Regions from separate parts of the Homo sapiens genome. Here region 1 is linked to region 2. Evidence: fine-mapped expression QTL. Tissue or cell type: whole blood. Region 2 holds a variant in brackets; the other region holds the start of a gene. All regions are shown on one strand. Distances are from middle to middle.

Region 1 (5,149 bases), 220 kb after region 2:
TTCCTTGTTTGTTCCCCACCTCACTACAGGCTGTGAGTATCTCCAAGGTCAGGTCAGGCCTGGGTCCTACTTACCTCTTTTTCTTTTTTTTTTTTTTTGAGACGGAGTCTTGCTCTGTCACCCAGGCTGGAGTGCAGTGTCGCTATCTCAGCTCACTGCAAGCTCCGCCTCCCGGGCTCACGCCATTCTCCTGCCTCAGCCTCCCTAGAAGCTGGGACTACAGGCGCCCGCCACCATGCCTGGGTAATTTTTTGTATTTTTAGTAGAGACGGGGTTTCAACATGTTAGCCATGATGGTCTTGATCTCCTGACCTCGTGATCCGCCCGCCTCGGCCTCCCAAAGTGCTGGGATTACAGGCGTGAGCCTGTACTTATCTCTTTATCCTGCATCTCACACAGGACCTGGCCTACTGAAGGAAGAGTCTCAATGATTGTTAATTGAACTAACCCAACCCATGAACAAAATGCCACAGGAGCACTTCATGCAGTGGGTGAAGAAAGAAGAAGCAAGTATCAGAAATAGTTTCACAGGGTAGGTGACATTAAAGCTGGATCTTGAAAGATGAGAAGTTGGCCTGGTGTGGTGGTTCATGCCTGTAATCCCAGCACTTTGGGAGGCCGAAGCAGACGGATCACTTGAGGTCATGAGTTCAAGACTAGGCTGTCCAACACGGCGAAATCCTGTCTCTACTAAAAATATAAAAATTAGCCAGGTGTGGTGGCATGTGCCTGTAGTCCCAGCTACAAAGACTACAGCTTGGGAGGCTGAGGCACAAGAACTGCTTGAACCCAGGAGGCAGAGGTTGCAGTGAGCCAAGATCCCACCACTGCACTCCAGCCTGGGTGACAGAGTGAGACTCTGTCTCAAAAAATAAAAAATAAAATAAAAAGTGACTAGGGCAATGCTGTATCATCTCACTTTATTTTAAATAAAAGAAAAATGAGAAGTTGTAAAAGATAAACTGCAACAACAAGCTACAGGGGATCTGACTAGTGTCCACGGATTGCTTCACAGAGGTAATGAAATATCATCTGATGTTATTGCTATTTAGTGATATTTATTTTCTTTTTAGTAATAATTTAGTTATTTAGTGATAATTATTTTCTTTTCTTTCTGATCTCGGCTCACTGCAACCTCCGCCTCCCCGGTTCAAGCAATTCTCCTGCCTCAGCCTCCCAAGTAGCTGGGATTACAGGTGCCCGCTACCACGCCCGGCTCATTTTTGTATTTTTAGTAGAGACGGGGTTTCACCATGTTGGCCAGGCTGGTCTTTAACTCCTGACCTCAGGTGATCCGCCTGCCTTGGCGGGGATTACAACCATGAGCCCCCACGCCCGGCCGAGATAATTATTTTCACATGAATTTTGGCTTCCCCAAGACAAGTTTTTGTCTGTTTTATTCAGGGATATATCCCTGGTGACTAGAATAGTGCCTGTTACATAGTAAGAAACTCAAAAATATTTGTTTAATTCTTTAGACGCTTATGGGGGATATATAGGAATTAAAAAACAATACAACGTAATAGAGCATGGTATAATACAATACTGCTATTTGATAACTCTGTCATGGAGTAGTAGTTCCACCAGAGTAGCAACCAGGTCTATCTTGATCCCCTGTATCCGTTAGTACAATATTGGTGCTCAATATACATTTGTGAAAAAAATTAATTAAAATACAACGTAATAGAGCATGGTATAATACAATACTGCTATTTGATAACTCTGTCATGGAGTAGTAGTCCACCAGAGTAGCAACCAGGTCTATCTTGATCCCCTGTATCCGTTAGTACAATATTGGTGCTCAATATACATTTGTGAAAAAAATAATTAAAATCTAGAATACTATTACATCCTAAAACCGTAAAAGCAGAGTGTCAGAAGGGATATATATTGGTTTTGATTTTTTTTAAATGCCGGCTTGAAAACCGAGTTCAGATACATGCTATCTGGCTTTGGGTAGGTTCTTTAGTTTCCTCCTCATCTAACAGGGCTGTTGTGGGACTCAGTGAGAGAGAGGATGGCTGGAAGTGCACATAGGATACTGCCTGGCAGACTGTAGGCACTCAGTAAACGCGAGTTCTCCGTTAACACGAAAACATTACAAACAGCTAAAATGACAGCTGCTTGAGAGAATAATCGGTAAGTGCCACAACCGGGCTAGAAAAGGATGAAGGACAAGCTCCTGCCCACTCCTTTGGAAACTCCACACCTGGGCCGGAGAAAGACTCGAATTCGAAAACTAAGTTTCAGTCGCACCTGCCTCCGGCGTCGCTTCAGCCTCCGAGGGGTCTGCGGAGGCGACGTCCCAGTCAGGAGGGATGCGCGCCTGCGAGCCCCCCGGGGATCTCGGAGCCGCTCCACTGCGGTGCCTGCCGCTATCTTCCCCACGCCTTAGTAACTGCGACGCGACGGCAGACAGTGTAGGCGGCAACCGACGGCCGGGACGTCTAACCTCAAGTCCCAGCAAGCCCCGCGGCCACGTCCTCTGACTACCTCGCGCCAGCAAGACCCAAACTACGGATCCCGATTGACTCCGCGCGGCGCGTCACGCTGTCAGCTCCAGCCAATCGGCTTCAGACAAGTCGGAGGGGAGGGAGACGCAGAGGCGGACAAGATGGCGGCGGCAGCTGTACAGGGCGGGAGAAGCGGTGGTAGCGGAGGCTGTAGTGGGGCTGGTGGTGCTTCCAACTGCGGGACAGGAAGTGGCCGTAGCGGCTTGTTGGATAAGGTGAGGAGCCGGTTCTTGGGAACAGTTGAATCCTGGGGAGGCCTGGGAGGCGGCGAGCCAACCTTCCCATCCCGGTCTCCCTTATTTTCTACGGCCTTTTGAGGGGAGCCCTTGTGTGACCACTATCACAACCCTACGCACGCTTGGAGCCTGCCCTTGCCCTCATCACACTTCAAACCTGGACCCGGTCCTCTTTAGAACTTCTTCTTTTCTCGCAAGTGTTCTGGTCCTGGTCGCCACACCTTTTTCGGTAATTTGATTTTTCCTATATTTAATCGTGTCCATCTCTTTTCTCCTGGGGGGCTGGGTGCACTGTTGTCAGTGCCCATTTCACAGACACGGAAAACCGAAGCCCAAAGATTAAAGAATCAGTATCCCCCAAACTCTCTACCACCATCACCCTTGCGTGCTGCTACAGATTCCAAAGTGCTTCTTGTCCTTTTGCTTACTGAAGTTTTTAGGCGTTTTATCATGATAGGCGAATACTGAAAATATTTGAGTATTGACTGTTCTACTGGGCTGACAAGAAGCCTTTAAGATTTTTCTTTTTTTCCTGTTGTTTTTCCCCGCCCTCTCCTCTCTTCCCTCCACCTCCCTCTTTGCTACCAAGTGCACTGCTGCCCGCTCACGCTTGCCCCTTTCCTCCCTCTGCTCATCCAAAAAAATTTTTTTTAACTGCAGTCCTAGCAACAAGGGTTTAAAAGAAAAGAAAAAAAGGAAAACTGTCCCTGGGTTGGCCTTTCTTGCTCTTTGCACAGCATCTTGGAAGAAACAGTTGCACGGAGAACAACGTCCTGGTGTTGATTTTGCCTCTAATTAGCTTTGTGACCTTGAAATATGCTTGCTCTCTCTATATCTGTTTTCTCATCTGCAAAGTGAGAGATTTAGCCTTAAAATGAGGGACTTAACTCTAAATTCCCTTCCAGTTCTCTCATTGTAGGGCCCTGGGCTGGTTTGATGAGAATTGTTAAGCATGGTGTCTTTAATATAGTAAGCAGAATTTTTGAATATAATTGAAAACAGCTTTCAGACTTCCCTGTGCATAACACATGGTAGGTGCTTAAGAAATGAAAACATGATTATGTTGAGGGGTTAAGATCCAGGTCTTTTTACTTGTCTTTTTGAGTGTCATTGGTTTTGAAAGACATGGTTCTCACACTCTTCTCTTGTGAGAGGGGTCACGCTCCATTGCCCAGAATGGATCTTAGCTCACTGCGGCCTTGAACTCTTAAGCTTAGGTGATCTTCCCACCCCAGCTTCCTGAGTAGCTGGGACTGCAAATGTGCACCACTATGCCTGACTAATTTTTTTGCTTTTAACTTTTCTGTAGAGTCAGGGTCTTACTGTGTTGCCCTGGCTGGTCTCAAATTCCTGGGCCTCAAGAGATCCTCCCACCTTGGCTCCCCAAAGTGCTGGGATTACAGGCATAAGTCACCATGCACCTGGCCTCACACTCAAACCTTAAGATACAGAAACATATTCTGGAGGTTGGGATGGTAAATTGCTTCAAGACATGTGAGAGTATGGGGAATTGATGGTCATTTGTGTACACAAATCCTTCCCTCTTGCTAGGTAAGCACCTCATAGCCTGTGCTTACCTGCCCCACTAACTGCTCTTGCTCTTCCTTGCACTTGGATCATCATCAGCAAACATTAAGTATGGGCATTCTGCTAAGGCAGTATAGAATACTATTATTATGGAATAGTGTATATGGCACCATTGTGTTATTGAAAGAACCCGGATGTGGGGATCATAAGATTTCAGCTTTGAAGTATTTCTGCTACTTGCTAACAGTATGAAGATTGGCAAGTCACTTAACCTTTCTTCATTTGGAATTTTGGAATCTCTGGCACCTAGATCACAGGGTTTTGGGAAGAACCAAGTAAGACAGTACACATTAATGATCTCCATTACCTGTAGTGTCCAGTACAGATGTGTGATGGTGGAGGAGTAAATCAAGAATCCTACTGTCAGAGAGCACTCAGAATAGCCAAATATAGGAGATGGGGTAATTGAATCTATTTAAGGAAGTATATGGTATATTCGCTCAAGTGTGTACTTGTTACGGAAGTTCAAATGAGAGAAATAGAGTGAACCCTGCGAGCTTATTGATAAGAGTAAGAGCCTCGGCCGGGCGCAGTGGCTCACACCTGTAAACCCAGCACTTTGAGAGGCCAAGGCAGGCGGATCACCTGAGGTCGGAAGTTCAAGACCAGCCAGACCAAGATGGAGAAACCCCATCTCTACTAAAAATACAAAATTAGCGAAGTGTGGTGGTGCATGCCTGTAATCCCACCTACTCGGGAGGCTGAGGCAGGAGAATCGCTTGAACCCGGGAGGTGGAGGTTGCAGTGAGCCGAGATCACGCCATTGCAGTCCAGCCTGGGCAACAAGAGGGAAACTCTGTCTCAAAAAAAAAA
Region 2 (5,149 bases):
CACCTAACAGAAATTAGCTTCTGACAACCCCCACTTTCCAGCTCCCTGCCATCTGAATGCTCAAACCACTGGCCAAACCAAATGACAACATGTACAAAAAGGTCAGGAGCCCAGAGTAGCTAAGGGGATGAGTGATTCCATGATCTTCACGCATAAGTCAAAATTTCCAAACTGTCTCTATCCAAGTTCCAAGCTCATCCCACAGTCTGGCTTGAAACTCTCATGCTGTGATAAAAGGTTTTTTTATGGTGGTCAGTTAGAAGGGGTTAGTGCGGTTGAGAATTCTTCCCCAATAGGAAGCAGAAAAGACAACTAGAAAGAAGCTTCTGGGCTGGAGGGGAGGCTGGTCAAGACCTTGGAAAGGGCATCAGGAGGGGCCGGGGTGAGAGGAGAGAGGTCTGGAATTGTGGCTGGCCTGTCCCCAGGCTGCAAGAACTCAGGAAACCTGAGTGAGCCAGGCTGCCCAGGAATGTAGAACGTTTACATCTCTTCCCTCACACCCACACAGCCATACTTTCTCTATTTATTTATAATCCCCTCTTCACACAAACAAACTTGCTCCCCTCTGAGACATAAGCTCTGCTCTGGGCTCTGGCACCCGGTGGGAGAGGCCTCTTAAGGAAATCAGAAGAAAAGCCTCAGCTCCTCAGTGGCTGAGCTGTGCAACCCGGAGAAAGGAACTGCATTTCTCTGAACCTGACTTTTCCCTCTGGCACATGACAGACATACAGGAACATAGAAGGGCCTCTAGGGAGAGAACTATCAAACCAGGAAAGGCAGCTCTGTTACCTGTTAAAGGGCAGGAAACAGGGTGGGGACTGTTCACATTTTTTTCTGCCTTGGACATATATGCTTAGATTCATAGAATCGTAGAAAGCTAGGGACTCAGAGACATCCAGTCCCCTGTTTCCTTTGTGGGAAATTGAGTCCCAGAGAGAGATCAGGACTTGACTAAGCTTGATTCACTCCAGCACAATCTTCAATGCCAGTCGTCAGATGTGGAGAGAATGCTTACAGGGACACCCATCCCCTACTAGGCAGGACTAGAAGAAATGGCCTTAATTTGTAAACAGAAGGCTTCTGGCGAGACACAAAAAAGAACTCCTGAGTACAAGAATGAGGATGGGGTCCTGGACAGAGGAAGGGGGACGCCTGAAATGATCTCTGTACTACACCTCCCAGGGGCACCGCTGTCATGCCAGTCCTTTTCTTTGAGAATATGAAGGATTCAAGGTCCCTCTCCCAGAGTCCGGCGCCATGGTTGGCGGCTGGGGGAACTTGAGAGGCCAGTCCTGGAACAGGTGCAACAGCTGGAGCAACTGCGCAGCTGTTGCCGGGCTCAGGCTCAGCAGCCTGTGCGCCAGTGAGTGAGGCAGAGACCTCTGCTGGTGGGAGAGGAGAGGTGCAGAACGGCCCAGTCAGAGATCCAGAGAGAAGTCAGCCTGGAGCCGGACTTCAGGCCTTCACTTAGGTGCTCCCCACTGCCTCATGCACACCTGCACAGGTAGATGGGGATGCGACTAAGCTGGACAGACAAGCAGGTCCCCTCTGGCCGGTCTCCCACTACCTTCACTGCCCCAGGCCATCCAGGCACTTTTTTCTGGTGTCTGAGGGTCTGCCTGTCCACTCCTCCCTGGCAGGGCAGGAGTACCACCCTCCCACATCCCTATTCCAAAGGCCAGAGTGGACTCGGAATCAAGGCAACCACACCTTTGGGTTTTGGAGACTTAGAATTACGAAGTGTTAAAACTAGAATGGTCCTCAATAATCATCCACTTGAGTCCAACCATCTCACTTTACAGGGGAGAAAACTGAGAGGTAGAGAAAGGCAACCTGTCCAGGGTCACAGTTGGAATTGATGGCACAGCCAGGGCTGGATCCATGACTTTCTGATTCCAGGTTTGCCCTCCACATCACATCCTACCAGCGGAGCTCCCTTCCTGTCCCATGCCTGCGTCTAGGGTCCGGAATTCATCACCTGGGAACGAAAGCTTCGATTCCCATAATAAACAAAACCCTTGAAGAAAAAAAATACATGGATTGTTTTTTTCTCAGCAGGGTCTCACTGTGATACCCAGGTTGGAGTGCAGTGGTGCAATCACAGCTCACTGCAGCCCCCATCTTCTGGGCTCAAGCAATCCTTCCACCTCAGCCTGCCGAATAGCTGGGACCACAGATATGTGCCACCATGCCAGGCTAATTTCTTTATTTTTTCTAGAGACAGGGTCTTGCTATGTTTCTCAGGCTGGTCTCAAACTCCTGGGCTCAAGTAATCCATCCACCTCGGCCTTTCAAAGTGCTGAGATTACAGGCGTGAGCCACTGCACCCAGCCCCATGTTTTTACTTGGTAACTGACTCTCCTGAAAGCAGGATTGGATGGAGGGAGGGAAGAGAAAGCAGAGCATACTAGACACCTACAAGGGACAATTAGGGAAGAGAACCAAAGAGAGGAGCTGAGAGGAGTAGGGCAGAAAGCACTGAAGAGGGAGGTAAGAAGATAGTAGGCCTCTGGTGGACACTCATCCACAAAGAGCCGAGTGTCTAGAGTGACCAGCATCACACATGTCTGTGGCTCAGCCTGGGGCTGGGACCAGTACTGGTCAGTAACCAGGTCAGGGACCCAGCCTGGGTAAGGGGTCTTGTATAGGGGTGGAATTGGTGTTCAACCTGTGGCCAAGGTTGGAGGACTAGGGCTTGGCTTGTGGCTGGAATTGCAACTTAGTCTGTATTGGGATTAGGGCTCAATCTATGGCTGGAAATAGAACCAAAGAGAGAATACTTTTTGTTTGAATAGCCTGAGGAGCAAACTGTTACCTGTGTTCACAGGCCCTTGGCATTCTTCAGGGCTCCGACACCTCAGGAGCCTGATACCACACAGACTTGAACATTTCCATCCGTTAGCACTGTTTCTGAAAGCACCTAAGATATCACCAGATTTCTGACCCACAACAGGCTTGAGATCTCACTTAAACTAAGATGAGGACCTTTGTAAGAGACCTTCAAATAGCATCTTGGCAAATGACTATAGGATCCTTTCTAGATTCATAGGCTGTCAGCACCAAACAAAATGAGGCTCAGATAAAGAAGTGGTCTGTCCCAACTCACACAGCCAATAAGTGACAAATCAGGGTCCAGGACCCAGGTCTGTTCTGTTT[TTTG/T]TTGTTGTTGTTGTTGTTGTTTTTTAAGAGATGAGGTCTCACCATGTTCCCCAGGCTAGCCTTGAACTCCTGAGCTCAAGGGTTCCTCTCCCTCTCAGCCTCCCAAGTAGCTGGTGACTGGAACTACAGGTGTGTACCACTGTGCCTGGCTTTTGTTCTTTTCTTTAATAAATTTGCTGTGTGACCTTGGGCAAGTCACTCTTCTCTTCTGGGCTTCAATTTAACTCTAAGTATAGGTATATTGATGGGTAGAAGCAGATGGTTTTTGATAGTTTCACCAGCTCTAACATCCAGGAATCTTAACATTCTCCAATGAGTGCCAGTCCACCTCACCCTAATGAGTTGGCTCCAAGTCTTTTTCTCACATGTCTGGAGATCTGTATTTACAAGGCTGTAGGGAAGATGGAATACTGGCAGGACCTGCTGAGAGGTACAGAGCTGAAGGCCAGGGAGGCACAGACGAGGGAGATCAGAGTGGATCAAGTCACCGGGGAGAGTTTGCTTGAAGAGGTGTGACCTAGGCAAGGCCATGAAAGGCTGACAAGATATGGGAAGCAAAGAAGCAGGGTGTGGGTAGGATAACAGTCTGGTTCTAGGACATCTTTCCAAGATGCATCAAGGGCAATGATATCTGGAGAAAAAATTGCAGGGACTAAGAACAAGGTGTCAAGTGGATGGGAGGCAGGCATGGAGGGCATCCTGTGCAAAGTCTCTTTTAAGAAATAGGAGGCAGGTGTTAGGAGGAAACCCTCAGGGTTCAAGAAAGCGGAAGAGACATTTATTAAGTACACAGCATTGTGCTGGGCACTTTAATCCGTTACCTCCTTTAATCCTCCCAAGAACCCTGCAAGTTCTGGATTAGTATCTCTCTTAGACAGATTAGGAAATTGAGGCTCAGAGAAGTTATGACTTACAAAAAGTCACACAGCTCTAAGGGGCACGGCCAGGATTTGAATACAACACTGAGCTAATTCCATTACTTGTTCTATGTAATGGAAAGACTTATGTGAGTCTCATGCTGCTGGCAGGCCAGAGACACTCAGCCTGCTCTCATGAGCAGAAACAAGACCGTAACAAAGTCCAGCACTACCAGCTCCAGAATGTCACGTGCAAAAGAAAGGCATAGATGGAGGAGCTGAGCTGGGGAGAGGAAAGAGCACCAGACTAGGAGTTGGGAACGCAGGGTCTTAATCCCAGGCTGTGCCATGTATGTCCTGGAGAAACCCACTGCTTGAATGAAGCTCCTTTCTTCTGATTAAGAGAATGTGGTTTGGTTTTCCATCCTCACAGCATTCTAAGAGATTGGCTGGGCATGGGGAGGGGGGACCACCAGCCTATTGTGGGCGCAGTGAGGAAACTGAGGCTCAGATTGATGATGTAACCTGTTTGATGTTACACTGTATCTATGTGGAAAAGCATAATTGGGAACTGATTTTTTTTGGAAGCTATCAAGCACCAGTCTTGTGCTAGCTGCTTTACCTCTTTTCTCTAATTTAATCCTATCAACTCTCCTAGGATTTTTACTTCCGCTTTATAGATTAGGAAACCCAGGGTCAGAGAGGTGCACTCTGTGACGGCCTCCCAGCAGCTGGCATTCAGCGGGGCTGGGATGGTGAAGACGCTGGTCTATCTCACTGTGCCCTGCCGCCTCCCAGAGTCTCACACTGCAAATTCAGGGTTCCTTCTAGACAATGTGAGGCAGGGAATAAAGCATGGGATCTGGAACTAGAGTTCTGGCTTTGGATGGCTTACCCGCTCTGTAAGTTTTAGCAAGTTCCTCCTTGCTCAGCCTAAGTTTTCTCATCTGTAAAGTGCGAATGATAATACCCACCTCACTGGAGAGTTGCGAGGATCAAAAGAGAGAAAAGAATGGGAAGGTTATCCTAATTACCTCTCATTTCTGTCCAATGGCTCTTTCCAAAGGCAAAAAGCCTTTTCTTCTCCATCACACTCCTTACCTGTAGCCAGACATACCCGACTCCCTCCTAGG

The links. PIP is the estimated chance that this variant, and not a neighbour inherited with it, causes the effect.
Region 1: SPCS2 starts here. The variant in region 2 is fine-mapped to the expression of SPCS2 in whole blood (INTERVAL, PIP above 0.99).

The regions. Positions count from the first base shown.
Region 1 is chr11:74,946,672-74,951,820 of GRCh38, forward strand. It overlaps SPCS2 (signal peptidase complex subunit 2), which reads left to right and starts at 2,595. Exons shown (of 5, transcript NM_014752.3): 1 at 2,595-2,728. The coding sequence starts at 2,615. It overlaps XRRA1 (X-ray radiation resistance associated 1), which reads right to left and starts at 2,420. Exons shown (of 19, transcript NM_001378157.1): 1 at 2,257-2,420. RefSeq lists enhancers at 1,788-2,642, 2,140-2,189, 2,310-2,369, 2,500-2,719, 2,643-3,497 and 1 more.
Region 2 is chr11:74,725,372-74,730,520 of GRCh38, forward strand. All of the region lies in intron 1 of CHRDL2 (chordin like 2), which reads right to left. Among named protein-coding and RNA genes, the nearest start is that of CHRDL2, 3.5 kb to the right of the region's middle. The variant TTTG/T (reference allele first, on the strand shown) is at 3,157.